Linked DNA regions of Homo sapiens. The protein of the gene in region 1 purifies or fractionates together with the protein of each later gene. This does not show direct contact. Each region holds a gene or a part of one and is shown on either strand. Other genes may lie near its edges.

Region 1 (16,812 bases):
AATTCCTCTGGTGCAGACTAGATCATGCTTGTCCTCACACACACAAGACTGTGATGGAAGGTGTTTTTGGCCATGTATTAAAAGGCAATGTAGTCTTTTTCTTCCTAACACTAGTTTCAATTTCTTTTTAAAGTAGTATTTTATAAAATGAATACAAGCTGTTAATCTTGTCCCTGTTGAAAAGCACAAGTAACAATGCATTCACCCTTTACTTATTTGGATTATTTTGGTGCTTTTGTTACTGTTTCCATATTATACAGAGGTCACGGTCAATGTATATATTAGAGAAAACACAACTTAGCAGAAGCAGTGTTAGAAATGGAGGAAAAGAGGCCAGGCGAAATGATTCATGCCTGTAATCCCAGCACTTCAGGAGGCCAAGGCAGGAGGATCGCTTAAAGCCAGGAGTTTCACACCAACCTGGACAATAAAGCAAGACCCCATCTCTACAAAAAATTAAAAGATCAGCAAGGCATGGTGGCGTGTGCCTGTAGTCCCAGCTATTTGGGACTATATAGCTCACTACAGTGAGCTATATATAGTGAGCTATATGAAGTGCCACTGCACTCAGCCTGGGCAACAGAGTGAGACTTCATCTTCTAAAACAAACAAACAAAAAATTAAAAGAAATGGAGGAGAAAAGGCAACTGTGCCACCTCCTCACCACAGCAGTGTACACATCAGTTTAATAGTAGGTTAATGAAACTAGGCTTTTCAGTTTTCAAGAATAAATACTGACTCATATGCCACTACTCTAGTATATTTGCAACATAGCTATTTGTATGATCTGGCTGAGGCCCTAGTGATAAGTGCTGTGGTTATAATTACAAAAGATGATACAATAAAAATGCTTTCTGTAGCCTCTATAACCATTAACTCTTCCTAAGGAAAAAAAACAAAACAAAAACCCCACCAATCTCACTGGTTATGATTTTTCCAAACAAATTTCTCTTGCTAAATTGGCATAGAAGTTAAAATGGCTGGTTGGGCAAATGAAAGTAACTAAGTTTAGAGTTTTGGGCAAATAAAAAGAACTAAGTTTAGAGTTTTGGGCAAATAAAAAGAACTAAATTTAAGAGTTTTTCTGAGCTCTTCTTTCTAAGCTTTTCTAACTTCTTGAGTTCTTAACATTATGAATTTAAATCTACCAACAAAACAACATTTTTTAAAAGTTACAAGATTGGAGGAGGAAAGACCTTTATTGGAGCAAAAGTTTACCTGTTGCATCCTTTACTTTTTAAAATCTGTTGTAAAGAAAAATCTGGGCATACCTGAACAGAACATTGATTCTAAATGGTTAAAAAGGTTATCAATTGATTACACTACATTGTGAGGGTTTTATGAGTTACTTTGAAAGGTATTAAAAACTTTATAGATATAAGGAATTATTATTTATCGCTACTCACAGCTCTCTTCACTTGATAATTTACTGCTTAGTTAGAGATACTGGTTGGACATCTTAGAGACTGGGAATTTGGTTTCTAGAATTGTGTTAAAAAGAGCTTCCAAAGTATTTTGCATCACTTAATGAATTAACAGCAAAATCAAGGAAGTACCTTTTAAACAACTCTTCCAAGACCTAAATATTAGTAGTTATTTACTAACAGAAAAAAGTTTATTCATATTTATATTACTCTCCATAATGCTGATTATGGAATTCAGAAGAAATCCTGGTTGTTGAAATTCTAGGACTAGATATTTAAAAATTATCTGCAAGATGTAGCGTTTGTTATTTCTCATTTTTTCTGATATATCATTAGCATCCTACATAAGTGTGTACACATATTTGATTATTTTACAATTTTATTTTAGATTCCCTGCATCAACTAAGAAAAGCCTGTTTTCTTTATTTCAAACTTGGTGGCGAATGTGTTGCGGGTCCTGTTGGGCTGCTTTCTGTGTAAGTTGTGATGGCACAGAGGATACAAACCTGCCAGATTTTCTTAGGACTGTTCAGTTGATGAATTACTGCAAATCTTTCTTCCTTACACATTTTGATATTTTATTATCTGTTAGTATCCCAATGAGAAGGTGGCCCAAAGAAATGAAGAAACGCAATATTTAGTACTGTTTTCTTTCTAGGGAACAGCAGTTAAAGGTGGTGGTAGAGGAAGCTATAACCCTTGATTAAAATAGAAGCTTGTTTTTTGCCTATGGATTTATCCATATGTTCTGGTCTGTGGGAGCCAGGAATAATTGAGAAATTTTAATTTAAGAATTAGTTTCATTGAAGTACGGGGACTTATACAACCCAGTATTAGTTTTGAGCGTACAGACATATGTGGAACTATTCTTGGAAAGTCTACAAAGTGAAATCTATCGAGTTATTTCTCATTTGCAAAGTGATCCTTTGAGTCATTTCTCATAATCTATAATCTGAATGTTAATACTGATATTTTTAAAAGCCCTACATCCCAACAGACCAGGCCATCTAGATATTTCAGCGTGGTGTCTCAGGATGAGTAAACAAACAGCTAAAAATATATGACTTATGTAAACTAGAGTTACAGGAGTTACTAGCTTTTCTGAAAGGGATATATTCTAAGTATTTTTTCTTAAAAAAAAAAAAAGGGGGGTGGGGGGTTTGCTCCTGCCATCAAACTTAACATGCAGACATATTTGTGACGTCCTCTAAAATGTAGAATGTTTCATACAGAATTATGATGCTTGGGTAAAAAAAAGTAGGATGTTTGTTGAGCTTCGTAGATTATATGTAATTGGAACCTTTGGAGTAAATTTTAGTTTCTGAGTCTTACCAATATGTATTTTTTTCTATTACAGATTGTCTCCTAACCCTCTAGTTTTAATTGGACACTTCTTTGCTGTTGCAATCTATGCCGTGTATTTTTGCTTTAAGTCAGAACCTTGGATTACAAAACCTCGAGCCCTTCTCAGTAGTGGTGCTGTATTGTACAAAGCGTGTTCTGTAATATTTCCTCTAATTTACTCAGAAATGAAGTATATGGTTCATTAAGCTTAAAGGGGAACCATTTGTGAATGAATATTTGGAACTTACCAAGTCCTAAGAGACTTTTGGAAGAGGATATATATAGCATAGTACCATACCACTTATAAAGTGGAAACTCTTGGACCAAGATTTGGATTAATTTGTTTTTGAAGTTTTTTGTATATAAATATGTAAATACATGCTTTAATTTGCAATTTAAAATGAAGGGGTTAAATAAGTTAGACATTTAAAAGAAATGATTGTTACCATAAATTAGTGCTAATGCTGAGGAGAACTACAGTTTTTCTTTTGAATTTAGTATTTGAGATGAGTTGTTGGGACATGCAAATAAAATGAAGAATGAACTTTCGTGTCTTTTTGTTTCTTGTTGTGGGCTCGTTTACATAGCTTCATGATAATGAAAAAGAAAACCAAAGTGGGATGAAAAGTGCAGAGGGAAACCTGTTCTATTAAATAACTGGGGAAGTTGCCTTAATGTCTTGACCTTGATTTCCTCATCTATCCAGTGAAGCAATTTGATAAGGTTATTTTCTTTAAAAAAAATTACTTATTTATTTATTTATTTTATTTTGGGGCTGTGACTCAGATTTGAACCGAAAGGTTCTTTGCTGAGTTCTCTGAAAATATCAGATTCTGACAGGAAAGGCAATCAAGGGCTTTATAAGTTCCACTGTATAGCAACATTTATAAGGCAGCCCAGGATGACATCAAGAAACAGTGAGTGAACAAGTAAGCACTTGTAATACCCGGCATAATACCTTAAAATCCGTTAGGATTTACTGAGTTTATCTATAGTAAATTTGAAGAGACTATGGATGTTCAAAGGGTATCATCATAAAAGTTCAGTAAATCTCCAAATACCATGAAAGTAAATTGTTACTTCTGAAAGAGCAGTAAAATATAACCTGGCAAATGAAGTTACTACTTGAGATTCTAACAGGGCTAAAATATAACTTACAAAGCTTTTACAATAAAAATTTCAATTTTTAAGTTTTTTCAGTTGAAAAAAATTCTTCACTGGCCAAATCACTAGCAAAATCAGTTTCAAACATCACTGCCTTGTTTTAGTAGAGCATATGGTGGACCCATTTGCTTGGTTTCGTAAGATTCCCATCTAACTGACCCTAAACTTCTATTTTCTGGTTAAAAACTCACTTTCCCAGATCTGGCCTTCTTAGCAGTTAGTTAGCTTTCTTTTTCGAGAACAAAGATCTCACTTCATGTGGTTATTGTTAACAAGATTACAAATGAAAAATAACACGCTATCGTTGAGATATAGATGTTCCCACACACCGTCTTTGCAGGGGGTGAGACTTCCAAGCTCCCTACGTACCAAGCAACAGTTCTCTTAAAATTCTGCCCTGGCCTCGGTGCCCTCATGGCCAGGATTCGAGGTTACCCTTGTTCGCCACTGAGACTCCTTTAAAGTCCTTTCTACTATGATAGTGAAATAATCAAAGCCTGTAAAGTCTTTTCTTCCCTTCAATATCAGAATTTGAGGCCTTCTGACAAAAGAAATAAAATGAGAAAACCGAAGGAACCTGAGAAATCCTTTAGTCCTAATTTTACAGATGATGCCAGTAGGCTGGCTTGGGACAAGGTGTAGCTTGTGGCAGAACCAGGACTCAAACTTACCCTCCTGATTGCAAATCAGTACATCTTCCCCCACCACTAGCAAAATGACTGTCAAACAGATTTTGGCTTCTGGGTTTGGTTTGGTTTGTTCCTTCCTCTCCAGAGAAGGACATAACCATAGAGATTTAGGGTGGAAACATCTTTCTTGCTCTCATCCAAGTTGTTGATACCCAAGTTGCCACAGTAGGATGGCAGTGATATGGTGTGGCTCTGTGTCCCCACCCATATTTCTTCATAGCAGTGTGAGAACAGACTAATAGTGGCAGCTTCCTTTTCAGGGTAATTTTCATGCAGAAATGATTTAGGATTTCGAGGGAGTTAAGCTTATGGGAAGGCTATTACCAAAAAGGACTCTGGATAATGATACGGTTGTGGGGACTTGGGGCAGGACTCAGGTTGCTGAGGAAGATACCGGAAGGAGCAGCTTTGTTAAGGAGTCCTACAGAAGGAATGCTGTGGACCCCCTAGGGCATGTGGGATTGGAAGAGGATGATGAGACACCAAGAAACTTCAATGGCACATGACACAGATTGTGTGGCCACTACATTTGCTACTAGTCTGGCTATCACCACGTGCCTGCCAGCTTGTTGGGGGTGAGCTATTATACCTAGCAGAGTCATCTCTTATTCCAAACAGGGTTTTTTACAGGGTGAATACACAGTTTTTGAATCATAAGCGAGACGACTTTGGGTACTAGTAATACTATTTTACTGAAAATCTGGAGTTGCACAAATAGTTCTTTAGAACATAAAACTAAATGGATTTATACATAACAGTTACATTCAGCATTTAAGAGAGGCAGTACAAAAATGTGTTCTGCTTTTATCTGATATAAATTGCATGTAATACCATGATTTAAACAATATCAGTTATATTAACTAATGCCATGAGATATATCTTACTCAGAACGTCTGATGTTTCCCATAATAGACAGAAAAAATGCAGTTGTATGAGCAACTGAGTTTCTTTTCATCTTCAAATTCATTTGTGATGGTGGGAAGATCTAAGGACAATCCTTCCATTGAAGAAGTAGGAAAAACAGTTACAGCACTGTTCTGAACTCATCAAAAATGAAATTAGGCACATGTGCTTCAGCAACCTGAAAAATTAAAGAATTAAATTATTCATGGTGTTATAGTTGAACAATTACAAAATTTTCATACGTAAAAGAAAAGATATCCTTGGAGCAAGGTGAATAATAGAAGAGGAGACTCCCATGGGCGGACGACTCCTTGAAACAGCCCCTTTCTGCTTGTGGTGCCCCCTAGACTAGCGTCTCATTTCTTGGCACTGCTAACATTTGAGGGGATGCAGTACAGCTCTCCCGCCTCCAAATCTGAGCTTCTTGGCTCTTAAAGGTACCTTGATCTGCGAGGAATGTTCTTGCCTCTGGGAAGTACTGACAAGTACTCAGGTCACCTAATACACTTCATTAACTGATGACCAACAAGGAAGAACAGGATGGCTGGCAAGTGATGGGGTTGGAGAGGTAGGGGAGGGCAGGAATGAGAATGAGATACCAAGGCCAGAAGGGGAAGAGCAGGAAGGCCTTCAGAGGCATGCATTCCTGAACTGTTCTTGGGCAAAGCCCTGAGAAGACTAAATTGGGCTCAGTTGGGTAGAATGTAGAGGTAGGTGATCTCCAAGTGCTGGAGATGAGTATTTTTTAGAAGCAGTGTTTAATTTTTTTTCTGATCATAAAGGTATAACCTGCTAATGAGAGGAAATTTAGCAAATGCAGAAGAGTATAAAAATTATTTTTACAGTGGGTGGAGGGCAAGGGGAGGGAGAGCATTAGTATAAATACCTAATACATGTGAGGCTTAAAACCTAGGCTGGGCGTGGTGGCTCACGCCTGTAATCCTGGCACTTTGGGAGGCTGAGGTGGGTGGATCATGAGGTCAGGAGTTCAAGACCAGCCTGACTAACATGGAGAAATCCCATCTCTACTGAAAATAAAAAAATCAGCAGGGCGTGGTGGTACGCATCTGTAATCACAGCTACTCAGGAGGCTGAGGCAGGAGAATCACTTGAACCAGGGAGGCGGAGGCTGTAGTGAGCCCAGATCTCACTACTGCACTCCAGCCTGGCGACAGATGGCACATGTATAATACCTATGTAACAAACCTGCACATTCTGCACGTGTAGCCCAGAGCTTAAAATTTAAAAAAATATTTTTTTAATCTTAATCCCTTAAAGAAAATAAAAACTGGCAACTTTTGTAATGAATTTTTCCAGTTTACTTACATATGCAGACAGACACACACACACACACACACACACAATCAAAATTAGGATCACATAATATTGTGTCCTTCTCTACCTCTGCTAAATCTTATATTATGAACATCCTTGGGCACATATCTTGGTAAACCTTTGCACATATATCCAGCAGGTAAAATTCCTAGCAGTGGAATTGCTGGGATCAGGGTAAGTATATTACAAATGTTTTTTTAAAATAGATAAAGCTAAATTGCCCTCCTCAAAGGCTGTCAATTTACATTCCAATTAATAGCACTTACAAGTCCCATTTCTCCAAATGCTTCCGAATAATGGGGGCCCAACATTTTACCTTTCACCAACCTGATAAGTGGAAACAGTAATTTTCGTATTTGGATTTTTGTCCCTTGAATCCGAAGGTTTGTCATTTCTATTTTCTTGAAAACTGCCTCTTAATTTCCTTTGCCCTTCCCCTGCTTTTTTTCTATTGGCTTGGACATCTTTTTCATACTGAACTTGAAGATTTGAAGAGCACACTATAAATCAAGAAACTAGTCCTTTGTTGGTATTTCCTCTTTTGTCTTTTGTTTTTTAACTGAGACACTGACACAGAATTAATTACATTCAGCATTTATAAAAAATCAAGTCTCTAAATCTTTTTCTTTATAGTTTCTTCTTTTGGTTTTATACTTAGGAATTTCTGAGAGCTGATACATATTTGCCTAAAATTTCGGCTAATTTATTTGTTTCATATTTCACACTAACCCTTTATCTGTAATTAATTTTGATAACATAGGAGATGTAAAGGGGACTAAGTTGCTATTTTTTTAACTGTGTGAACTTACATCTATTGACTAATATTCCCTTTCTCTCTTAATTTGAGATGCTACTTTTCCTTATGTACCATTGTATGCACAGGGTGTGTTTCTAGGCTACATATTCTTGCTCATTGTTCCTTCTATTTAGTTGCATACCAGTAGCACCCTATTTTGGTTTCTACAGTTTTACAGTGTTTTAATACTTGATATAATATTTTAATATCTTTTTTTTAAAAAAGGACTTGCCTAAGTCCTATGACATTTTAAAAAATATATTCTTTGAAGTTAAAAAAGTACCTGAAATCTTGATTGTAACTGCAGTAAACCTATAAACTAGATAGAACTATTATCTCTGTAATATTCGAGGACCCTCATTCAGAAACATGGACTTTCAAATTTTATATTTAAAATTTTTATAGTTTTTTAATAAAGTGTTCTTTCATATTTCTTATAGAGGTTATTCTTAGCTATATCATTGCCTTGTTATTTCTGTGAATAGGTCCTTTTTCACACTGTATTTTTTAATCGATTGATGTATTTCATACATTTATTCTGTAGCCAGCTTGTTTTCTGATCTCTGTATTATTTTGATAGTTTTTCACATGATTCTATTGGGTATTCAAGGAAGACAGTTATGCAGCAATCCCACTACTGGGTAACTACCCAGAGGAAAAGAAGTCATTATTCAAAAAAGATACCTGCACATGCATGTTTACAGCAGTACAATTTACAATTGCAAAATCGTGGAACCAACCTAAGTGTCCATCAATCAATGAGTGGATAAAGAAATTGTGATATATACATACGATGGAATGCTACGCAGCCATAAAAAAGAATGAATTAACAGCATTTGCAGTGACCCGGATGAGACTGGAGATTATTCTTACAAGTGAAGTAACTCAGGAATGGAAAACCAAACATCGTATATTCCTACTGATATGTGGGAGCTAAGCTATGAGGACGCAAAGGCATAAGAATTATACAATGGACTTTGGGGACTTGGAGGGAAGAATGGGAGGGGAGTGAGGATAAAATACTACAAATATGGTGCAGTGTATACTGCTCAGGTGATGGGTGCATCAAAATCTCACAAATCACCACTAAAGAACTTACTCATGTAACCAAATACCACCTGTATCCCAATAACTTATGGAAAAATAGAATAAAAAAGGAAGACAATTAATCTCAAATAATACAGAGTTTGTCTTCTTTCCAATATGCATTTTATTTTCATTTCATTTCTTATTGTCTTGCACCTGTATAACAAAAGTAGTTGCAAGAGTCTGTATAGTTGTCATGACACTGTGACAGTCCTGGCTTTAATGGGAATGCCACTAACATTTCACTATTATGTACTGACATTGCTAGTTAATTTTAAAAGTTCATCTTTGGCTCATGTTGTAAGAAAGTATCTTTGATTCCTAACCTACTAATTTCTAAAAATCAAATGATTTTCAGTATCTGCTGAAAGTTGTATTTTTCAGTATCAAGCTCTCCACTTTGAGCTAAAATTTAACAAAGTGGAATTACTAATGAGAAAGGGATAGGAAAGAATGTCTTGGCAGGTAAAAAGTAGTCTGCCATTTTTGGAAACAGTGCTCATATATACATTTAGTTGTGGCATGAACTTAACTGTGCTTGCTGTGGGAACCAGGTCAGTGGAGAGAGAAAGAACAAACCACCATGATTATTTCTTTCCTCTGGCCACTTAAGGAATCCCTCCTGGCTTGCCTATTTCACTTAACTCCTGAACCAGATGAGTTGCTGACAGGAGTACATGGTGGAGAGGAAGAAGAGGCGGGAGGGGCATTGTGTTAAACTCTGCAAGGCAATTCCCATGGTGGAAAAGGCAAGGACATTTCAGAGCTGGGGGTAGAGCAGTGGCGAGAGGCGCAGAGGCATCTACTGTGAACGACCTATTGGGCTTCACTCCTGATGAATCCAGGGCCACTATTATTAGCATCTTTTTACAACTATTAATATTGTTCTTTACTATCTATCACTTACCCTCCTGGGTAGCTTTGTGTACCGAACATAATCCTCCAGGAACAGAAGGGCACCCACAACATCTGCAGGAATTTCAGGTATCTTCTGGCTGTGATAGAGAACAGTTTAGATCAATTAACTGCTTTGCACATCATAAGCCCTTTTGGTCAGAATCCTGAAAGACTAAATTACCAACAGATTACCTAATGAAGTCAAAGATGAACAAAAACATTGAGCATGCTCTTAATTCCTGTCAAGTTGTTACCTTGCTCATGTATTTTCAGGAGCCCACCCCATAGGGTAAATGTGAGCTTCTCTATACGGTTTCCATGGGCGTTTACAACACGATCCCTGCTATCTATCCAGACTCATCTCCCTCTGTTTACATGATTCAATACCTAGCAGGTCCCATACTTTCCCATCCCTGCACACTTTTTTTTTTTTTTTTTTGCGACAGACTTTTCACTCTTGTAGCCAGGCTGGAGTGCAGTGGTATGATCTCGGCTCACTGCAACCTCCGCCTCCCGGGTTCAAGTGATTCTCCAGCCTCAGCCTCCCGACTGGCTGGGATTACAGATGCACGCCAGCATGCCTGGCTAATTTTTTGTATTTTTAGTAGAGACGGGGTTTCACCATGTTGGCCAGGCTGGTCTTGAACTCCTGACCTCAGGTGATCCACCCGCCCTGGCCTCCCAAAGTGTTGGGATTACAGGCGTGAGCCACCGCACCTGGCCTGCACACTGATTTGAAAGTAAACTTCTAGACATTGTTCGAGTCTCAGCTTGGGTACTTCTCCTGTGGAATCCTCCCTGATTCTCCTGGGCTGTCATAATAGTTAGCAGCATTCTCCAAGCCTCTTAATTTTTCAATGGTGTGCTGGGTTCCCATCAGGAGTATAAACTCCTCGAGGGCCTAGGTCATATGTTCATCTTTGTTTCTCCAGCATCTGGAAATGTGCTTGGCATGTACTGCATATTTGACGGTATCAAATAAATACAGCATCTAGCAATTTTTCATATGGGATTTTACTCATGTATTCATTCATTCAGCAACTACAGTGCCAAGCACTGTTCCAGAGCTGGGAATACAGCAAAGTACATGCCAGGCTCCTTATAGAGCTAACGTTCCTTCTTGTTTACATCAAAAGGAGTTTTTAGGTGTTAAAACGATTTCCAATTCCTGTACCAATTGGCATTTTCTGATTAACAAATAACTTTTAGTACTATTAATACATTACTGGTTAATTTCGCTGATGAACTTTGCTTTTTGAATGGGTTAAGAATGACTGTACCTGGAAAAATTCTCCCTGCTCTCAATCTTTCAATCTGTGACCAGGGCTATATTTGCTCTGCTTGGAGCAAGAGAAAGGAAGGAATTCCCATGCGTCACAGGTTCCTTAGATTCCTTTGCTCTGCTGAATCAGAAAGCCTGACTTACAGCTGGTCTCCTGTAGCCTGATCACCACCCTCAGGGTTGCCAATAACATGCTGGACTAGAGCCACACTTAAGCCTTTACTGCCATTAGTGAAAAAGAAAGAGAGGAAGAAGAACCTGTCCAAGTTGACAGCTAGGGAGCTACAATTGGGACAGCCAGTTGTGTGGAGGTTACTTGCTAATCACCTCCGCACCACCTGAACTGGAGTCCTTCCCCTCCTCTCTGGGAGCCTGGGCCAGAGGCGCTGGGTTTTTATGAGCCTACTGCTTTCCTTGCCAACTGACCTCACTTCGTGATTGTTACAATTTCATTTTTGAGACTTTGAGTTCTCCTCTATTTTTCAATTGTTAAAAAATCTTGTTTCTGAAGCAAGTCTTAACATCTATCCCAGGAAAACACCAGTGTTTGTTGTTCGATTCATTAACTAAGAGGAGGAGGAGCTGGCCTGACTGCAGCTCACGGGAAATAACGACATTGGGGTTTAGAAAGAATGCAAAATCAGTAGGAGCCACTGGTATGCACTGGATGTCAAGAAACCCATCACTGCAAAGCCGAGATCACGCCACTGCACTCCAACCTGGGCGACAGAGCGACTCTTTCTCATAAAAAAAAAAAAAAAAAAAAAAAAAAGGACTCATCACTGCAATTGTAGCTGCTGTACTGTCCACAGAGGGCCCAGAATGAAGACGTGTAATACTCCTCTGTGCCAAGGGGAGGGCTGTGCTTGGAATCTCAATACAAGTTTGGGAAGCCACATTTTAAGATGGTCAAAAACAGACTGGAACACCCAGAAAAAGTCACTCACTATGGTGAGCAGCCTCTAAACTGCAAGACATCGGGAACAGGTGGAAGGGGCTTATCTAAACATTGAGAAGACCTAAGACAACAGATGGCATACAAAATCGGAAGTGATGTTGCAAAGGAGGGAGACTGCATTATTCTGTATGATTTCAAAAGGTAGGAAAAAGCTCAGCGAGTGAAACATCCAGAGACACAGGTTCTAATAATCACAATCAGGAACTTTCTAATGAGAACAAGACTTAGCCAGTGGACTGTGCTGCCTGGAGAGGTAGCACAAGCCCCCTCGGTGAGAGTGTTCCAGCAGTGGCTGCATGACTACCTGTCAAGGATGTCCTAGAGCTCATTCATGCACTTAGTGGGAGGTCAATTAAATGACCTCGAAAATCATTTCCAGTTTTAGGACTTAGTAGTATTTTGTGTGGACTTAGAAGATCACTTTGGTTCGTTTTATTTTTTTTGAGATGGAGTCTCGCTCTGTCACCCAGGCTGGAGTGCAGTGGCATGATCTCAGCTCACTGCACCTCTGAGGCCTCCTGGGTTCAAGCAATCCTCCTGCCTCAGCCTCCTGAGTAGCTGGGATTACAGGTGGCCACCACTACATGTGGTTAATTTTTGTGTTTTTTTAGTAGAGATGGGGTTTCACCATGTTGGCCAGGCTGGTCCTGAACTCCTGACCTCAAGTAATCTACCCAAAGTGTTGGGATTACAGGCTTGAGCCACTGTGCCCAGCCGCTTTGATTCGTTTTTTACATTATAGTGGCAAAAATGACCAAGCAAACATGACAGCAAAGGTTATGTAGCCAGGCTGACCCTTTAGGATAGCAGAGAAGGAGGCACAGGACCCAGCATCTCATGGAAATAACTTTTTTTTCTTTATCCCAGAAAAGCCACATTTAGGGGCAGGGGAAAAGAACTGGCAGGAATTAAAGTTTTATAAGCATTGTATCAAATAGCAACTCTTGTGAAATTTGCTTCTCTACATGCAGACACTGCCCAGGCTTTGACACACTGATATGTTCTCTGACTCCCACTGAAGTGAGTGGAATCATCTCTTGGCAGTGGCCCAGCAGGAGTGCAGGGGCTCGCTGAGATTGAAGAGCTGCATCCAAGAGTGCAGAGGAACAGGGCTGCACTTTCTTCCCCATGGTAGTTACTATTCATGGTCCTGAGTCACTCCTGGAAAATCAATGTGAGTAGACCGGATGGAGTTCCCCTGGCAGGGTGACTAAGGATGGACACACCTGTAATTGCTCTAAACAAGGAGGTATGCCCTGACTTGCTTTACAGAGAAGGGTGAGCAACCATTTCCCATCTCTATTAGGGCGATAAGAGGAATTTGGTAATGTGAGGTTTAAGTTAGGTTTTGTGACAAGAAGTCCCACGTAGTCCTGGTTGGTCTTCTGTACCTTGTACACTGCTCCACCGTGGAGCAGATAAACTGGCCAATCAGCGCCAGGAACTGCTCGGTGTACCGGGAATGGAACTGCTTCAGCAGAGTGAGCAGTCCCAGGACAAGTGGTGGCCAATCAACCGGGTCGGTCGGTTTTCGGCAGACCATTCCTGCAAGGGAACAAGTTGCAACACCATATGAAGTACTTGCCTTCAGCAACATTCATTAAATACCAACGCTGTGAAGGTCAAAATGTTTGGGGCCCATATTCTCGCTGGCAGATGATATTTTGGAGGGAATGACAATTCTGGGCCATATTTTGAATTAGCCACAGGATTGGTAGGGCATTCCAGGGGTCTGAAGGATTCAAAACCAATAAAACGGTTACTAAATTTTGTAATTATCATTACTGGTTCTTTTGAATTACTCAATTAACATATATTATTGTAGCAATTTTTAAAGATACAGATAAATGTAAATGAGAAAAAAAATCACTACAACTGACTTCTGTTAACGGCAGCATGACATACTAGATACCCTGAACTACTATCTTAAGTGAAAAGCTGGATAAAATACTTTTAGGGTATCTTTAAACAAATGTTGAGTAATATATATACATAAAGAATCTGCAGAAATCAAGAGAGTGGAAGAAGGATATTTATGAAGTGAATGAGTATCAAAGCTGGCCTTTACACTAACGATTTTTTAAAAATTGGAGATGGGGTCTTGCTATGTTGCCCAGGCTGGAGTGCAGTGGCTATTCGCAGGTGCAATCACAGCACATTATAGCCTTGAATTCCAGGGCTCAAGCTGGGACTATAGGTGTGTACCACTGCACCTGGCTCTACACTAAAGATTTCTGCCAAAATGTGGAGACCCTGACCTCTGCCTGGGTGGCTGCATGGGAAACCAGAGACAGAGATTAGGGTCTTCCAGAAGAAACACAATGTTGAAAAAGAACAGTGTTGGGAAGGTTTAGGTTGCCTGATTTCAAGCTCTCTATACAGTTTCAATAATTAAGACACTATGGCATAAGAACAGACAAATAGATCAATGGAACAGAATAGAGTCTAGAGATAGTCCCACCCTTCTATGAGTAATTGAATAGTCACAAATATACCAAATAATAAAAAAAGATAAATCTTTTAACAAATGGTACTGAAACTGGATAGTCTTATGGGGGAACGACAAACCTTGACCCCTATCTCATACTGTACACAAAAAACAATTAGAGATGAACCACTGGCCTCAATGTAAAAGCAAAGACTACAGAACTGTAAGAAAAAATATCGAAGATATCTTTGTGACCTTGAAGAAGGCAGAGATTTCTTTTTTTTTTTTTTGAGACGGAGCTCACTATGTCACCTAGGCTGGAGGGCAGTGGCACAATCTCGGCTCACTGCAACCTCTGCCTCCCAGGTTCTAGCGATTCTCCTGCCTCAGCCTCCCAAGTAGCTGGGATTACAGGCGTGTGCCACCACGTCTGGCTAATTTTTGTGTTTTTAGTAGAGACGGGTTTCACTATGTTGACCAGGCTGGTCTCAAACTCCTGACCTCAGGTGATCCTCTCGTCTCAGCCTCCCAAAATGCTGGGATTACAGGCATGGGCCACTGTGCCTGGCCTGGCAGAGATTTCTTAGACAAGACAAAAAAGAATAATTATAAAGGAAAAAAATGGATAAACTGGACACCATCAACAGTAAAAACTTCTGCTCATTAAAGTTACCAGTAAAAAAATACATAGATAAGTCACAATATTCTCAAAACATATCTAATAAGGAACTTGTATCCATAATATATACATAACTACTACAACTCTGTAATAAAAAAAAAATTTAAAAACGAGCATAAGACTAGAACAGGCACTTCGCAGAGAAGGATATAAGGAATGGCCAATAAGCACATGAAAAAGTGCTCAAAATCATTAATCATCAGGGAGGCAAATTAAAGCTGCAACAAGATACCATAGATACCCATCAGGATGGCTAAAATGGGCTGGGTTCAGTGGCTTATGCCTGTAATCTTGGCACTTTGGGAGGCCAAGGTGGGTGGAACACTTGAGGTCAGGAGTTCGAGACCAGCCTGGCCAACATGGTGAAACCTGTCTCTACTAACAATACAAAAATTACCCGAGCATGGTGATGCATGCTTGTAGCCTGTAATTCCAGCTACTCAGGTGGCCGAGGCAGAACTGCTTGAACCCAGGAGGTGGAGGTTGCAGTGGGCCGAGATTACGCTACTGCACTTCAGCCTGGGTGACAGAGTGAGACTCTGTTTCAGAAAAAAAAAAAGAATGGCTAAAATGAAAATGACTGACGCCACCAAATAATGGCGAGGATGTGGACTACACATATACTCACTCTTGGTGAGAGTGTAACTGGCACAACCACTTTGGACAAAGGGTTGGCAGTTTCTTATCAAGTTAACTGGTTAGACAGACCCTCAGGTCCCATATTTGACTTCTTGTGAAGACCGGAAAATCTTCCCCAAACCAGAGAAGCCTAAACAAGTGATCCTGAATAACCTAACCTAGGCCTTGGCAATTCAGAACATGGAGGAAGAATCCTAACAGGACTCAGTATGGAGAAATAATCCTTTCCAGGTGGAAAGCAAGAGTGATGTTAACAACAAACACTTCTACAACTAGCACTACACCACGAAGCTTCTTTCTTCAAACACAGACCAAGCCAGGTATGCATTTCATAGGCCAATGCTGAGAACGGTGTTTACAAGGTTAAATAAATGTTTTTCGGATATACAGTTTCAAGGCTCTCTTTACAGTTTCAATAATCAAGACATTATTGGCATAAGAAAAGACAAACACATCAATGGAACAGAATAGTCTAGAGATAGTCTCACCCTTATATGAGCAACTGAATACCCACAAAGATACCAAACAATTGTTCCTTCCTCAGTCCTACTGTAATTTAGTTCCTGCATTAACACATCAGTCTTATTGATGAGAAGAATTATAGTCAGTTATAAACACCACATTTCTAGGATACATAAAGATTTTGTTGTGTTATGTTTTAAGATCTGGGAATTCCAGGGAGAGTGATACTTTCCATAAGCAGCTTTACAATCAAGGTGCCAGGCCCTAATCATATACACAATGAAAAAAAAATTAGAATGAGAAGTCAACAAAAAGTTATTCTTTAATGAAAAGAAGGTTCTTTCTGCACTGACAGTTCATTATCAAGAATCATATATTCCTATTGAATAATAACATAGAACAGAGAGAGAACATGAATCTCTGAATCTTCAGATGAACCTTTACATTACACTTGGGATGGCCCTTTAAATTGATTTTGACCAATATATAGAAAGGGACTCAGCACCTGTTGGGCACTCAGTTTGCGGTGACTTGGCCAAAGTCACATAGGTGATAAGTGGTGAAGCCAGATTCCAAACACACATTGGTTCCCTCCCTCCTACAGCAAGTATTGTTTGAGGAGATCATGCTCTGCCTTCTGTGACAATCACAGGCATTGTCATGGAAGCAGTGTCTAGAATCAATGATTACTTTTGAATGAGAGAATAAAAACATTAAAGAGATTCC
Region 2 (16,812 bases), on another chromosome or scaffold:
TATAATAAGATTACATTTAGTCTTTCTCTGTTAAAAAAGAAAAAGGCTAAATTGTCAAGCAGTTTCAGTAAGTATTCCTATTATTTTCCTGAAATCATACAATAGGCCGAAGTGGCAAATTTAGTGGGTTTTTTATGCTAGTCACTAACAAAACACAGCAGATTATGGGTTTTCTATATGTTTCCCTAAAATTAAGGGAAATCCAAACAAGTATTTTGGCTTTTCACAGGGAGAGTAAGATGTTATCACCTGCTTATTGAACTCCACAGCAGCCTTTTCCGACTCAAACATGATGGACCAGTTCTGTCTCTGGTCATCATAAAAGGTGCTATAGTTATTGGGCCGAACCTGGAGAAAGGAGAAATGTTAAATTCATCCACAAGCAGTATTATACCAGATAAACATGACGGCCTAAGCTCATAGAGTAGGGTCTTGACTCAGGTGGACCCAAAGGGAACTATCAGAGATCTTTCTTCTTCCCTCTCACCCTCTACGATTCACCCTTCAGTCCACATTCCTAGAAGGAGCCAAGAGACCTTTCTGAAAGGTTCTGTTAGATACTCACAAGGACACCCAGGGCTGAACCAGTGGATCTAATTTCTATTAGGTACAATCAGACCAGTCTCTCCTGTAAACCTATCCCGAAGGAGCTAATGATTCCAATATGATGAAGTCTTACCATTAGCTCAAAGTTCACATGAATCCTAGCAACCGTAACTGGCTGTTGTTGACTGATATAAAGAAGAATCCTATACTGTAGACAAGCAACGACAGATAGAAAAAAAAAAAGAGAGACAGCAGAAGTTAAAAGGCAATATAAAATCAGCAATATAAAATCAGCAATAAGTATCAAAGGTTGTGCTTCATACTAAACTCAAAATCTATTCATCCTTTAAGGCTTCAACTTTAAATTTTATCTTCTCACTATCCACATTAATCTCTTCTCATTTTGGTCTTACTGTTTAACTGTAATTGGCAATGTCTTCATTTTGTTGGTGTTTTCATTTATACAAGGGGTGACTAAGAGTGGCTGGTTGTGTAAAAGAAAATACAAATTGTTTTTAAATTGATGAAAAACATAAAATACATGTTCATTATACATATATGTGCCCACGTGACCATCAACCAGATTTAAAAAATAGCAGAGCATTTCCCACACCACAGGAAGCTCCCTCATGCCCTTCCTAGTCAATAATCCCCACCCTGAGATAACCAATATTCTGACTTCTGTCGCTGATTAATTTTGCTTTTTTTTTTTTTCTTTTTGAGACAGAGTCTCTCTGTCGCCCAGGCTGGAGTGCAGTGGCGCAATCTCGGCTCACTGCAACCACTGCCTCCCGGGTTCAAGCAATTCTCCTGCCTCAGGCTCCCGAGCAGCTGAGACTACAGGTGCACGCCACCACACCCTACTAATTTTGTATTTTTAGTAGAGACCAGGTTTCACCATGTTGGCCAGGCTGGTCTTGAACTCCTGACCTCAGGTGATCCGCCCACCTTGGCCTCCCAAAGTGCTGAGATTACAGGTGTGAGCCACCGCACCCAGACAATTTTGCTATTCTTAAATTTGTATAAATAGGATTATACAGAGTATACTCTTTTGTCTTGCTTCTTTCACTCACCGTATCTATAAGAGTAAGCCTTGATACTTCATGTTCCAGGACTTTATTCTCTTTTATTGTCATGTAGTATTCTATTATGTGAATATACCATAAACTCTTCATTCATTCTCCTGTTTATGAACATTTGAGTTGTTTCCAGCTAGAGGCTATTATGAATGATACTTCTATGAACATTCTCCACGTCATTTTTTTTTGAGATGACGTTTCACTCTTGTTGCCCAGGCTGGAGTGCAATGGCATGATCTCAGCTTACCGCAACCTCCACCTCCCAGGTTCAAGCAATTCTCCTGCCCCAGCCTCCCAAGTAGCTGGGATTACAGGCATGTGCCATCACACCTGGCTAATTTTTTTGTATTTTTAGTAGACACGGGGTTTCTCCATGTTGGTCAGGCTGGCCTTGAACTCCCGACCTCAGCCTTGGCTTTCCAAAGTGCTGGGATTGCAGGCGTAAGCCACCGCGCCCAGCCTCTCCATGTCTTTTGAAAGACACAGACATTCGTTTCCCTCAACTTAAAGAATGTCCTTTAATGTTCCTTGTAGTGCAAATCTACTACAATGAATTCTCTCACTTTTGTTTGGCTGAAAATTTATTTTGCCTTCATTTTTGAAGGATATTTTTGTTGCTATAGAATTCTGTAATAGGCAGGGTTTTGTTTTCCTTTCAGTACTTTAAAGATATAATTCTACTGTCTTTGGATTCCAATTACATGGACGTTAGACCATGTCCCACATCAATCTTTGCCCTGGTCTCTTTCTATTATTTCTTCTCTCTGTGCTTCAGTCTGAATATTTTCTATGTTACTGCCTTCGAAGTCACTAATTCTGTCTCCTGCTGTATTCTGACTCTGTTAAACCCATCCAATATGTTCTTAGTTTCAGAAATTGTATTTTTCAAATCTAGACTGCCATGTGATTATTCTTATAGATTCTAACTTTTTAAATTCTCCATCTTTTCATCCCTTTTGTACTTTTCCTCTATTTTCTTTAAGATATTATTCCTAGTTGTTTTAAGTGCCTTGTATGTTAACTGCAATATCTAGGTTATTTGTGAGTCTGCTCCTAGTTTATTTGTTCCCTTGATTATTAGTTACATTTTCCCACCTCTTCACATGTCAAGTAATTTTTTACCGTAGGCCCAACTTGTATATAAAACAACATGAGGGATAAAATCATAAAACTCTTAGAAGAAAACGTAGAGGTGAATCGTCATGACCTTGGTTTTGGTAATGGATTCTCAGATAAAACACCAAAAGTACAAGTAACAAAAGAAAAAACTTGATAATATGGACTTCACCAAAATTAAAAACTTTTGTACATCAAAGGACATTATCAAGAAAGTGAAAAGATAATCTATAAAATATCTGCAAATAAGGGTTTAATACTCAGAATATATTAAAAGACTACTACAACTCCACAACAAAAAGACAAACAATCCAATTTTTAAAATGGACAAAGGGCTTGAGTAGACATCTCTCCACAGAAAATACATGAATGGTCAATAAGCAAATGAAAAGATACTCAACATTAGACATTGGGTAAAATGCACATTAAAACCACAATAAAGTACCATTCCACACCTACTAGAATGGCAAGAATTTAAAAATAATAATAATAACAAAATGCTGGCAAGGATGTGAAGAAACTGAAACCCTCATACATTGCTTGTGGGAATGTGAAATGGTGTGGCTGCTGTGGAAAACAGTTTGGCAGTTTCTCAAAAAGTGGTACATAAAATTACCATACGAGTCAGCAATTTCCACTCTTAGTATACAGCCAAAATAGGAACTTGACCATATACTTTTATGTCAGTCTTCACGATACATACTTTTTTTGTCTATTCCCAATAGACAAAAGGTATAAACAACCCAGTGTCCATCAACTGATGAATGAATAAACAAAATGTGGTATATACCTACAATGAAATATTTTTCAGCCATGAAAAGGAATGAAATACTGATGCATGCTATAACATGGGTGAACCTTCAGGACATTATGTGAAATGAAATACATCAGTCACCAAAGACAAATACTGTTATGATTCCACCTATATTAGGTACCTAGAAAGGGCAAATTCATAAAAACAAGAAGAGATTTGACCTTATGGGCAGCTGGGAAAAAGGAAGAAGTAGAGTTATTGCTTAATGGTTACACTTTCTGTTTGGGAAATGGATAGTAGTGATGGTTGCTCAATCAATACTGTGAATGCAATTAATGGCACTGGATTATGCACTTAAAAATGGTTAAATGGCAAATTTTATCTTATATATACATATGTATGTGTATATATATGTGTGTATTTGTGTATGTGTGTGTACACACGCACCCCACAATTGAACAACAAACAAACAAAAAAATGCCCAAATTCTTAAGCTAGGATCATATCACAAAGGTCAAATTTAACAATTTTGAATGGTTGGATTTGTTTTAACGCACAATAGTAAGCAAAATGTGATCATTTACTATATGCTTGATGTTATAAATTAACATTCAATACAAATAATCATCCTTATCTTCTGATAAACAAGACATCGGGCAAGCCAGATAAAAGCCAGCTCATTGGTATTATTTGGGACATCTGAATATACATGAGATGTGGGAGCACTCTCACCTCTCTGGCTGTGTGGTTCCCCAGAACTGCAGCACCAAATTTGCCCTGCTTTACATATTGACCATTTGTGCTATAAAAGGAAGAGAAACAACAAGTATTAATACTTCCCTAAATTCTGCAGAACCAGCTTTCTTTTCTGTCATACAGAAGTGGGAACAACAGTCATTCAGCCTCTAGGCAGGGACACAGGTGAGCGGTTTAAAATTTTTTTTTTTTTTTTTTTTTTTGAGACAGAGTCTCGCTCTGTCACCAGGCTGGAGTGCAGTGACATGATCTTGGCTCACTGCAACCTCTGCCTCCCAGGTTCAAGCAATTCTTCTGCCTCGGCCTCCCAAAGTGCTGGGATTACAGGAGTGCGCCACCGCACCCGGCCCAGCAGTTTATAATTTAAAGCTCATATACTATTCCCTTACTCTTTAAATATAAATATCTATCATTCATGCTATCTCAGTGGAGAGGCTTTCTTTGAGCATTTGACAGCTGTTGAGGGTACAAGCACTCCCTAAAGACAGTAGACAAGATAATGGCTTTTCAAGTTTTACCACAGAAATCTCCAATTCAGATGTTAAAAGTTCTACTGATATTTTGTCCGTGGAAGGGCTAAATAACCGTTTTGCAACAAACAGAGGTTTTTCGAGAAAAAGTAGCTTAACTGCACGCCCTTCCACCAAACTTCAGAGGGTGTTCCTTCTCAGCGACTTACTATCGATATGCATGGACTGCTGTTGCGACCAGTATTGTGGGAGTGCTCATGGTGGCTGGTGCTGTTTTTGGTGTTGCCTGATTTCCTGAAGATGAACAAGAAAACAAAGTTGTCATTCACTTCTTGCTTTAAACTAATTTTTTTTAAAGACGGAGTTTCACTTTGTCACCCAGGCTGGAGTGCAGTGGCGTGATCTCGGTTCACTGCAACCTCCACCTCCCGGGTTCAAGCCATTCTCCTGCCTCAGCCTCATGAGTAGCTGGGATTCCAGTTGCGTGCCACCACATCCGGCTAATTTTTGTATTTTTAGTAGAGATGGGGTTTCACCATGTTGGACAGGCTGGTCTTGAACTCCTGACCTCGTGATCCACCTGCCTCAGCCTCCCAAAGTGCTGGAATTACAGGCGTGAGCTACTGTACCTGGCCTTAAACTAATTTTTAACCACTGAACTAGCTTCAAAATTGATCTTTATAATTTACAGTCAGTGTTGTAATGCTTTTATGATTATCCTTATTTGATCCACAAAGCAGCCCTATGATCTAGTCTGGGGGTGAAGAAACTGAGGTTCTAATCACCCAAGTGCCTCACACAATTATACCATGATAGTGCCTAGGTCTGAAACCCATGACTCCAACTCCCAACCCACACACCCCAAATAAGTCTTTGGCTAGACAAGGAGTACTGTCTAAAAAGTGATAGTCCATCTATTTTATTTTCTCCTTCCAGTATTTTGACAGCTATAATATATGAAAATAAAGTTATTTCCCCTTCCCTGTCTTCTAGGGTGGGAAATTCAGTAAGATATTTAAATCACACCCATTAATTAACTTCACAAAGTACTACAGAGTAGGCTGGGCGCAGTGGCTCGTGCCTGTAATCCCAGCACTTTGGCAGGCCGAGGCAGGTGGATCACGAGGAGTTCGAGACCAGCCTGGCCAATATGGTGAAACCTTATCTCTACTAAAAATACAAAAATTAGCTGGGGGTGGTGGCGCGCACCTGTAGTCCCAGCTACTCATGAGGCTGAAGAGGAAGAATCGCTTGAGCCTGGGAGGCAGAGGTTGCAGTGAGCTGAGATCGCACCACTGCACCCCAGCCTGGGTGATGGAATGAGACTCCGTCTCAAAAAAAACAAAAAAACAACAAAAAAAAGGGACTACAGAGTAACACTAACATTTTCAAATACCATGTTAAGAGTAAATCACATTTATACTCACTATATGAATGTGATGGAAGAGTAGTGAGATAATACTGATGCGGACATGACATGCAAGAACTTATATTTTGAAAGAACTCGTTTGATTTTTTCTGTATTAACACTTTTTTTTCTGATTATAGAGTACAAGTGCATTGTAGGAAACTTAGAAAATACAGAAACACATAAATTAAAATGCAACATTTTTGTGTGTACTTCCAGTTATCTTCTTATAATAAATTCCTTAAAATGGAATTATGGGGTAAAGGAGTATAAAAAATTTAAGGTTTGGTTACATCCTGTCCAACTGTTCCTCAGGCTGGACGAGATGGCTCACACAGGTAATCCCAGCACTTTGGGAAACAGAGGTGGGCAGATCACTTGTGGTCAGGAGTTTGAGACCAGTCTGGCCAACATGGTGAAACCCCATCTCTACTAAAAATACAAAAATTAGCCAGGTATGGTGGGTGCACCTGGAGTCCCAGGTACTTGGGAGGCTGAGGCATGAGAATCACTTGAAACACAGGAGGCAGAGATTGCAATGAGCTGAGATCATGCCACCGCACTCCAGCCTGGGTGACAGAGCGAGACTCCATCTCAAAAAAAAAAAAAAAAAAAAAATTCCCTTGAACAGAGAGGGACTTCTGTATTGCTACTTTATTTATTTGTAAATGCCTAAAGAAAACTGTATAGGCAATCTTGCTTCTATAGCTCCCTGCTAAAAGTGTAATAAACTCATAGTTGCTGTCTTCTGATTTAAATAATCAAGTTAGCCAGGTGCAGTGGCCAGGAGTTCAAGGCCGTAGTGCACTGTGATGGCACCTGTGAATAGCCACTACATTCCAGCCTGGGCAGCAAAGCAAGACTCTGTTTCTAAAATTAAGTACAATAAAAAATAAAAATAAAAAACCAAGTGTTTTCATTGGGTGGGAACTAAGGTTGTTTCTTTTTCTCCCATTAACTCAACCACTTTAACTCTGAAGCACACTGCTGATGAAGAGATGTGCCACAGGAAATATAAAAGCATAGCCTACTAGAAATCTGGCCAGGTTATGAGTTGGAGAATAAGAGAAGCACCTACAGCAAAACTGCCTAAAGTAATAGGTAATATTTAAAGCAGGGATCGGCAAACATTTTCTGTAAAGGGCCTATAGGCTGTGGTATAATATGAAATATGTTTGGTCTTTGTCCTTGGTTCCTGACACACTGCTCCCAAATCCCTTGTAATTTCCTGAGTGATAAGAGTGGTAGGAACATCTTTTGTATAATCCAATTTTAGCCAGCATGATAAGGAAGGAAGTCTTCTCTGCTTTAACCTACACAACAAAAGTAACTTTGAAATGACCAATTGTTTTTTGTTCTGTTTCTGCTTTCTTCAGCACTTTTCTGCCTATAAAGCCAACCTCCTCTGCTCAGCTCATCACAACATTCCATTTTATAGAATGAAGTGTTGCCCAATTCTAGAATCTCAAATAAAAGCCAATTAAGATCTTAAAACTCCATGTGTTATAACTGTATCTTTTGACAATGCTAATGAGGTGACTTAGAGTGGGGCCCTAGAGGGGTGGAGGCTCAGGATGGAGCCTACAGCTAACCTGTCCAGATAAAAGAAGTGAAAAGTAGGTCTTCCTTCTCACCAAAACACTGGACAGTGCCTACTTAGAGTGCCTTGGACAGAGTTTGGGAGAGCGGTGTCCATATGGGGCAGAAGGCCTTGCTTTCGAACCTCTCCATCAGTTCCCAACAAAGCGCACGCTATCTAGCTGCTAGAAATCAGGATCCCAGATCTTAGAGAAGCACTCACCACTGGGGGTGAGCTTAGCCAGACTGGTCAAGGATACACAACCTGGCATGTCACTTTTGGAAGGCTGCTAACCCTTCCATCTAACCTGTTAAGGCACAATCCTAGTGCCAGTTGTGATGGCTTTTTTTTTTTTTTTTTTTGAGACGGAGTCTTGCTCTGTTGCCAGGCTGGAGTGCAGTGGCGTGATCTTGGCTCACTGCAACCTCCGCCTCCCGGCTTCAAGCAATTCTCCTGCCTCAGCCTCCCAAGTAGCTGGGACTACAGGCAAGCGCCACCATGCCCAGCTAATTTTTGTACTTTTAGTAGAGACAGGGTTTCACCATGTTGGCCAGAATCGTCTCGATCTCTTGACCTCGTGATCTGCTCACCTCGGCCTCCCGAAGTGATGGCTAATATTTAGTGTCAACTTGATTGGATTGAAGTACACAAAGTATTGTTCCTGGGTGTGTCTGTGAGGGTGTTGCCAAAGGAGATTAACATCTGAGTCAGTGGACTGGGAAAGGCAAACCCACCCTCAATCTTGTTGGGCACTATCTAATCAACTGCCAGCGTGGCTAGTATAAGGCAGGCAGAAGAAGGTGGAAGGGGCTGACTTGCTGAGTCTTCCGACTTTCATCTTTCTCCTGCGCTGGATGCTTTCTGCCGTCGAACATCAGACTCCAAGTTCTTTGGCTTTTGGACTCTTGGACTTACACTAGCGGTTGGCCAGAGGCTCTCAGGCCTGCAGCCACAGACTGAAGGCTGCACTGTCGGCTTCCCTACTTTTGAGGTTTTGAGACTCGGACTGATCCACTACTGGCTTCCTTGTTCTTCAACTTGCAGACAGCCTATCATGGGGCTTTACCTTGTGATCGTGTGAGTCAGTTCTCCTCAATAAACTCACTTTCACACATACGTATATTCTATTAGCTCTGTCCCTCTAGAGAACCCTAATACACTCTTGTTTTTATTTTGTTTCAGTTTTGTTTTGTTTTTTGAGACAGAGTCTCGCTCTGTTGCCCAGGCTGGAGTACAGTGGCTCACTGCAACCTCTGCCTCCTGGGTTCAAGAGATCCTCCGGCCTCAGCCCCCCTAGTAGCTGGGATTACAGGCACACGCCACCACACCTGGCTAATTTTTGTATTTTTTTTAGAGATGGGGTTTTGCCATCTTGGCCAGGCTGGTCTCAAACTCCTGACCTCAGGTGATCCACCGGCCTCGGCCTCCCAAAGTGCTGGGATTACAGGCATTAGCCACCTCGCTCGGCTAATACACTCTTAACTTACCTGTTGCTGCCGTTCCCTGGCCTTTCTTAGGCTGTTTTGGGGCTGTGTACTGGAAAAATTCATTTCCATGGCCAGCAGCTGCCTGATCCAGTCCAAAAAGTGAGGCCAATCTGGCACTGTTAGTAGAAAATGAAAAATGAAATTTCACTGATATATCCCAAACCTGGAATTATTATAAAAGCTGCTCATCTCCAACCTTGAACAAATACCTCCTTGACTACATCCCACCATTCAATACTAGAAACACTTCAAGCTAGGAAAGCTGATTTAAAAATTAAAAAAAAAAATAAATAAAAATATTGGACACAGCAAAGTGTCTTTGAAATCAAGATTGTGTATGTGATTTGAACATCATCAGTTGACCCTGTTTATCCCCAGGACCTTGGTCAAGGCATTTCTTTTTTCTGGACCTCAGTTTTTCCACCTATAAACTGAAGTGACTAGTTCAGGTGCTCTCTATGGTATCTTCAAACTGTAAATTCTTGCTTTTAGCAAATCACAGTTTCTAGTCACCCTTACTGACTACTCCCCCTCCTGCTTTTTACTAGTTTATTCAATTGAAATGAAGCTATGATACAAACTTACCCATCAAACATGGTCCCTGCCATCCTTTCATCTAACAGAACCATTCTTTCATCATCCCTTGCAAGAAATCTTATCCCCCACCATTCCACTGAAACTGATCTTGCTAAAATCACTAAAAATTTTTTTGTTTGTTTTTGTTTTTTTTTAGATGGAGTTTCACTCTGTTGCCCAGGCTGGAGTGCAGTGGTGTGATCCCGGCTCACTGCAACCTCCGCTTCCCAGGTTCAAGTGATTCTCCTGCCTCAGCCTCCCAAGTAGCTGGGACTACAGGCGCGTGTCACCACACCCGGCTAATTTTTGTATTTTTAGTAGAGACGGGGTTTCACCATGCTGGCCAGGCTGGTCTCGAACTCCTGACCTCAAGTGATCCACCCACCTCGGCCTCCCAAAGTGCTGGGATTACAGGTGTGAGCCACCAGGCCCATCCGATCACCAACAACTTCTTTGCTACTAACCCCAGTTTACCAGTCCTTATTTCACCTCATACCACCTTTTTATACTGTCAATTAACTTGTTCTTCTTCAAATTCTTCTCTTGACTTCTGCAGGGGTTGTGGAAGGAACAGGTCCAAATAAGATATCAATAAATACTAATGCAATCCCTGGCTTGTTTTGCCCCATTTCTCTGGCTTCTCTTTAACCCCTTGGGCTCTTCTTCTTCATTTGCCCAATCTTTAAATGTCCATGTCTCCAGGGCTTCATACTTTCTCTCCCTTGGTAGGGTTTCATACTGTCTCTCTGTACTCATTTACCTTGGTATCAAATGCTATCCAAATGCTGGTGATGCTCAAATCTGCATTCCCAGCCCAGAACTTGCTCTTGAGTGCCAGAAAACATAGATATCCCACAGGCAATACAAATGTAACATGTCCAAACCAGAACTCATATCCTCCAATGCCCACTGCCCCAGCAAAACCTGTTCTTCCTTTTGTGCTCCAAGACCACTGCCAGGTTCAAGGATTCTAGAGAAGGACTCAATGGTCTCAGCATATAGTGGTACTCATGGCTAAGATCTATTACAAAAAAATATACAGAAAAATCAGCAAAAATAAAAAGTGCACAGGTCGGCTGGGCACAGTGGCTCATACCCGTAATCCCAGCATTTTGGGAGGCTGAGATGGGAGGATCACTTGAGGTCAGGCGTTCGAGACCAGCCTGACCAACATGGTGAAACCCTATCTCTACTAAAAGTACAAAAATTAGCCGGGCGTGGTGGCACGCACCTGTAATCCCAGCTACTCGGGAGGCTGAGGCAGGAGAATCGCCTGAACCAAGGAGGCAGATGTTGCAGTGAGCTGAGATCACGCCACTGCACTCCAGCCTAGGCAACGAGAGCGAAACTCCGTCTCCAAAAAAAAAAAAAATTATCCAGTCTTGGTGGTAAACGCCTGGAGTCCTAGCGGCTTGAGAGGCTGAGGCAGGAGGCTCAACTGAGCCCAGGAGTTTGAGACTACAGTGAGCTATGATCATGTCACTGCATTACAGCCTAGGTGACAGAGCAAGACCCTGTCTCCCCCGAACCAAAAAAAAAAAAAGGATTACTAGATTATCATAAATGTCATGGGAATGAGACTGGTGGCGTTATAAGAAGAGGAAGAAAGATCTGAGCTAGTATGCTTGCCATGTGATGCCCCATGCCATCTCAGGACCCTGCAGAGAGTTCCTACCAAGAAGAAGACCTTCACCACATGCAGCCCTTCTGACCTTGAACTTCTCAGCCTCCATAACTGTAAAAAATAAATTCCTTTTCTTTATCACACTTTAGGTATTCTGTTATAAGCAACAGAAAACAGACTAAGATATCAGCCAAGAGCCAACCTTGTAAGCAGGGCTTTTTAGGAATAATAGTCTCAGGCTTGCTGTGTTAACTCTTTAAAACAATTTTTTTTTAGAGACAGGGTCTCAATCTGTCACCAGGCTAGAGTGCAGTGGGGCGTTCATGGCTCACTGCAGCTTTTGCCTCCAGGGCTCAACCAATCCTCCCACCTCAGCCTCCCAAATAGCTGAGACTACAGGCATGCACCACCACACTCTAGGGATTCTCCCACCTCAGCCTCTCAAGAAGCTGGGACTACAGGCATGCACCAAGAAACCTGGCTAATTTCTATATTTTTTGTAGAGACAGGGTTTCACCATGTTGCCCAGGCTGCTCTTGAACTCCTGGGCTCAAGTGATCCACCCACCTTGGCCTCCCAAAGTTCTGGGATTACAGGTGTGAGCCACTGTGCTTAGCCATGAAATGTATTTCTTAAATGGTAAGACCTGATCTGAGGTGCAGAATGGATGTTGTGTTAGCAGGCATGAAAACAACATTAATCTTATACATCTCCATCAGAGTTTGTGAGTGACCAAGTACACTGTCAATGGGCAGTAATAATTTGAAAGAAGGCTTTTTTTTTCTGAACAGTGGGTCTCAACAGTGCATTTAAAATATTCAGTAAACTATGCTATAAACAGATGTGCTGTCATCCAGGCTTTGTTCCATTTGCAGAGCACAGGCAGAGTAAATTTAGCATAATGCCTAAGGGCCCTAGGATTTTTGGAATGGTACATGAGCAACGGCTTCAACTTTAAGTCACCAGCTGCATTATCCCCTAATAAGAGTTAAGCCTGTCCTTTGAAGTTTTGAAGCCAAGCATTGACTTCTCCTCTCTAGCCATGAAAGTCCTAGATCTTCTTCCAATAGAAAGCTGTTTTGTCTACACTGAAAATCCGTTGTTTGGTGTAGCCACCATCACCAGTTCTCTTTGCTAGAACTTCTAGTAACTTGCTGCAGCTTGCAATCACTTGCTCCTTCATCTAGCACTTTCATGCTATGAAGACGGCTTCTTTCCTTCAACCTCATGAACCAACCTCTGCTCACTTCCAGCTTTTCTTCTGCAGCATCCTCACCTCGCTCAGCCTTCACAGAATTGAAAAGAGTTAGGGCCTTGCTCTGAATTAGGCTTTGGTTTAAGGAAATTTGTGACTGGTTTGATGTTCTATCAGATTCCCTTAAACTTTCTCCATGTCAGCAATAAGGCTGTTTTGCTTTCTCATCATTTGTGTGTTCACTGGAGTAGCACTTTTAATTTCCTTTAAGAATGTTTCCTTTGCATTCACAATATGGCTAACTGGCACAAGAGGCCTAGCTTTTGGCCTATCTTTGTTTACACGCCTTCCTCACAAAGCTTAATCATTTCTACTTTTTTTAAAGCAAGAGATGTGCAACTCTTCCTTTCACTTAAACACTTGAGGTCGTTGTAGGGTTATTAATTGGCCTAATGCCAATATTGCTGAGTCATGGAGTATAGGTAGGCTCAAGAAGAGATAAAAAAAAAAAAAATAGAGAACTGCCAGTCAGTGGAGCAGTCAGAACATACACAACATTTATCAATTAAGTTCACTATTTTATGTGAGCGTGGTTTGTGGCAACAACAATTACAGTAACACCAAAGATCACACCATAACAGATATAATACCATTGAAAAAGTTTGAAATATTCAGAGGATATATGTGTGTGTATATATAAACATATATACATATGTGTGAATATATATGTGTGCGTGTGTGTGTGTGTGTGTGTATATATATATATATATATATTTTTTTTTTTTTTTTTTTTTTTGAGATGCAGTCTCACTCTGTCGCCCAGGCAGGAGTGCAGTGGCCCAATCTCGGCTCACTACAACCTCCGCCTCCTGGGTTCAAGCGATTCACATGCCTCAGCCTCCCAAATTGCTAGGATTACAGGCGTGCATCACCATGCCCTGCTAATTTCTGTATTTTTTAGTAGAAACAGGGTTTTGCTATGTTGGCCAGGCTGGTTGCAAACTCCTGGCCTCAAGTGATCCACCCGCCTCAGCCTCCCAAAATGCTGGGATTATAGGTGTGAGCCATTGCAACTGACCAAGAGAATATTTTTGAATATTAAGAGAATTACCAAAATGTGACACGGAGACACGAAGGGAGGAATTTTGCTGTTGGCAAAATGATGCCAATAGACTCACTCAACACGGGGTTGGACACAACCTTTATTTTGTGAAAAAAAAAAAAAAAAAAATCTGCAAGGCACAATAAAGCAAACCGAAAAAAAAAAAAAGGGGGTATGCCCAGTGTCTGGTATGTAACAGGCTCAGTAAATGAATTCAAAGTCTAGTCTGGCTCTGAGCACTTCTTCTCCAAAGGCATCCTTAGTTTAGGTGAAGTAAACATTGAAACTTCCCAACAAGTTATTTTGGCTTTTCAGGTTTTTTTAAAACAAGTTTTATGTATAGAGAAATATGCACTAGCATTTTACAAAATAAATTTTATATGACTTGAAACTATTACCTTCTTTTCTCAAAGTAGTCTAATGTAAGTTTAAGTTTCCTGTAAATAGGCCAGAAATGCCTACTGTAAAGGACTAAGAGGTTTAAATGAGATTGTAAACGCAATGCTTGAGTGAGAGCAGCGCTGGCCTAAAAAGACATCACCAAATGCTTATGGAATTTAGAAGACAGCAAGATTTGTCCTTTCAGGCAGGAAAATTCGGGCAAATTGCCTAAAGAATAAGATTCTGGAAGAGTTGGGTTTCACTATCTTTAACACAGTGAAAAATGTACAAAGCTTAGCACCTAGTTAAGATAACATAGCTTATGCACAGATTACTGATAAGAAATGAATGTCCTTGTTAGCTTCAGTAAACCATGAGTATTGGGCTTGCTGTTTTAATTTTGCAGGTATAGCCTTTTTAAAAGGAAAGACAAGAGTGTCATAAGTGAACTGTGTTTCCATAGATGTTCTAAAGACCAGCCAACTGAAGACTACAAAGTCGATCCAAAAGCCAGGTCAACCTAATTAGTTTTCAGATTAATTCCATTTTCTTTTTTTTTTTTTTTTTTGAGACGGAATTTTGCTCTTGGCGTCCAGGCTGGAGTGCAATGGCAGGATCTCGGCTGTGCAACCTCCACCTCCAGGCTTCAAGCGATTCTCCTGCCTCAGCCTCCTGAGCACCCGAGATTACAGGTGCCCGCCACCAGGCCTGGCTAATTTTTGTATTTTTAGTAGAGATGGGGTTTCACCACATTGGCCAGGCTGGTCTTGCACTCCTGACCTCAGGTGATCCACCTGCCTCAGCCTCCCAAAGTGCTGGGATTACAGGTGTGAGCCACCACGCCCAGTTTTTTTTTTTTTTTTTTTTTTTTTTAATGAGACGGAGTCTTGCTTTGTCACCCAGGCTGGAGTGCAGTGGCACGACCTTGGCTCACTGCAACCTCTGCCTCCCAGATTCAAGCGATTCTCCTACCTCAGCCTCCCACGTAGCTGGGATTATAGGCACCTGCCACCACACCCAGTTAATTTTTGTATGTTTGTAGAGACGGGGTTTCATTGTGTTGGCCAGGCTGGTCTCGAACTCCTGACCTCATGATCCACCTGCGTTGGCCTCCCAAAGTGCTGGGATTACAAGCGTGAACCACCACGCACAGTCCCATTTTCTATTAATATCTTTAATGGACTCTGCATCAACTTGGGAGATAAGTTACTTGTAAATTTTTAGCAGGGCATGGTGGCTCACTCTCAGAGGCTGAGACAGGAGGACTGCTTGAGGCCAGGAGTTCAAGACTAGCCTGAGCAATATAGCAAGAACCCATCTTTACAAAAAATTAAAAATTAGCCAGGCGTGGTGGCATGCGCCTGTAATCCCAGCTACTTGGGAGACTGAGGCAAGTGGATTGCTTGAGCCCAGGAGTTCGAAGCTGCAGTGAGCCATGACTGCACCAGTGCACTCCAGCCTGGGCAACAGAGAAAAACCCTGTCTCAAAAAAATAAATAAATAAACAAAAATAAATAAATTTTTAGATTTTTCCACTACTAAGGAACTCTCAAATGTACACAATCTCCCTATGTTGGCAAGAATGAGCTTGCTAACTCTGGACTTGAATCTATATTTATAATTCATAGGAAAAGTCATGACAGAATTAACTACATTAAAAAAAAATGTTAGACAATGCATTTAGTCGCCAAGGACCTCACCTCACCTCAGTTTTATATTTTCTTTCTCATCAAAAACAAAAACACATGCATTTATACTGTATCAATGTATTTTAATAAACAGAGATTCTTTTTGTTGGTAAAGTATTAATACTTTTTTAAACAAACTGACATCAAACATCCATTTCAATAATAACAACAATAGCACATAGGCAGGTCTGGTAGAATCTGCCTACCTGATTTCAGATCCAGGCTCTATTACTTTCTAGCTGCATGATCTTGGGCAATTTACCTCTCTGAGCCTTTCCCATTTGTAAAACGGATATAATAATTAATAGTACCTCATAGAGAGGAGTAAATACAATTATATATATATATATATATATATATATATATATATACATTTCTCATTTGTAAAATGGGCATAGTAGGTAAAATTATTTCATAGAGTAGAAGGGAGGAATAAATACAATAATGTCTATGTATTTCTTAGAACAGTGTATGGCATTAAGTAAGCACAGAGTACGTATTTATATACTTGTGAACACATCCTATTATCTCAAAATGTGGTTCAACTCAGATACCCCTGCAAGGGTGAAAGCATGCTTGATTGACACGGAAGTTGACCTGCAACCATAAACTGGTATTAGCATTAACATTAAAACTACAGAACTGGCAAAGGTCTCAAAGTTTATCTAGGTCAAACCTCATTATTGAATAGGTTGGGGTATGGAGGGACAAGGATGGAAGATAATCTGTCCAAAGTCACATTCCTAACTGGGGATAGAATCAACATTTGAATCTAGGCTTTTTCCTATCTTTTACAGAACTCAAAATGCTTTCTGATGATCGGTTAATTTATCTTTCTACCATCTTTAGACTGGTGATTTATCATTACTATGCTAATCGGATCTGCCTACACATACCTTTATAATCTAAAACAAATATATACATAATTGGCCCCTTAAAAATGCTTTGTGATTATTATTCCTGGATTGATTTTATTCTACTACTAAAATAAAAGTTTCTTAGGGGCAGAAACTGTGCCTTATTCCTATCTGGATTAGCTGAAGCCAAGTAC

What was found.
Region 2: the proteins of WASHC5 (region 1) and FKBP15 purify together in Homo sapiens (affinity purification with western blotting; 2 studies listed by BioGRID, with this or other methods). This does not show direct contact.

What each region holds. Positions count from the first base shown.
Region 1 is NC_000008.11:125,018,972-125,035,783, forward strand, and holds the end of WASHC5 (WASH complex subunit 5), read right to left. Parts: exon of another isoform or gene 16,391-16,812; intron 13,424-16,390; coding exon 13,270-13,423; intron 9,737-13,269; coding exon 9,649-9,736; intron 5,703-9,648; coding exon 5,646-5,702; 3' UTR 5,289-5,645; downstream 1-5,288. Other genes in the region: SQLE (squalene monooxygenase), read left to right, coding at 1,813-1,900, 2,782-2,974. UniProt on the Homo sapiens protein: Acts as a component of the WASH core complex that functions as a nucleation-promoting factor (NPF) at the surface of endosomes, where it recruits and activates the Arp2/3 complex to induce actin polymerization, playing a key role in the fission of tubules that serve as transport intermediates during endosome sorting.
Region 2 is NC_000009.12:113,202,282-113,219,093, forward strand, and holds part of FKBP15 (FK506-binding protein 15), read right to left. Parts: intron 9,312-16,812; coding exon 9,196-9,311; intron 5,016-9,195; coding exon 4,931-5,015; intron 4,298-4,930; coding exon 4,228-4,297; intron 755-4,227; coding exon 680-754; intron 349-679; coding exon 250-348; intron 1-249. UniProt on the Homo sapiens protein: May be involved in the cytoskeletal organization of neuronal growth cones. Seems to be inactive as a PPIase. Involved in the transport of early endosomes at the level of transition between microfilament-based and microtubule-based movement.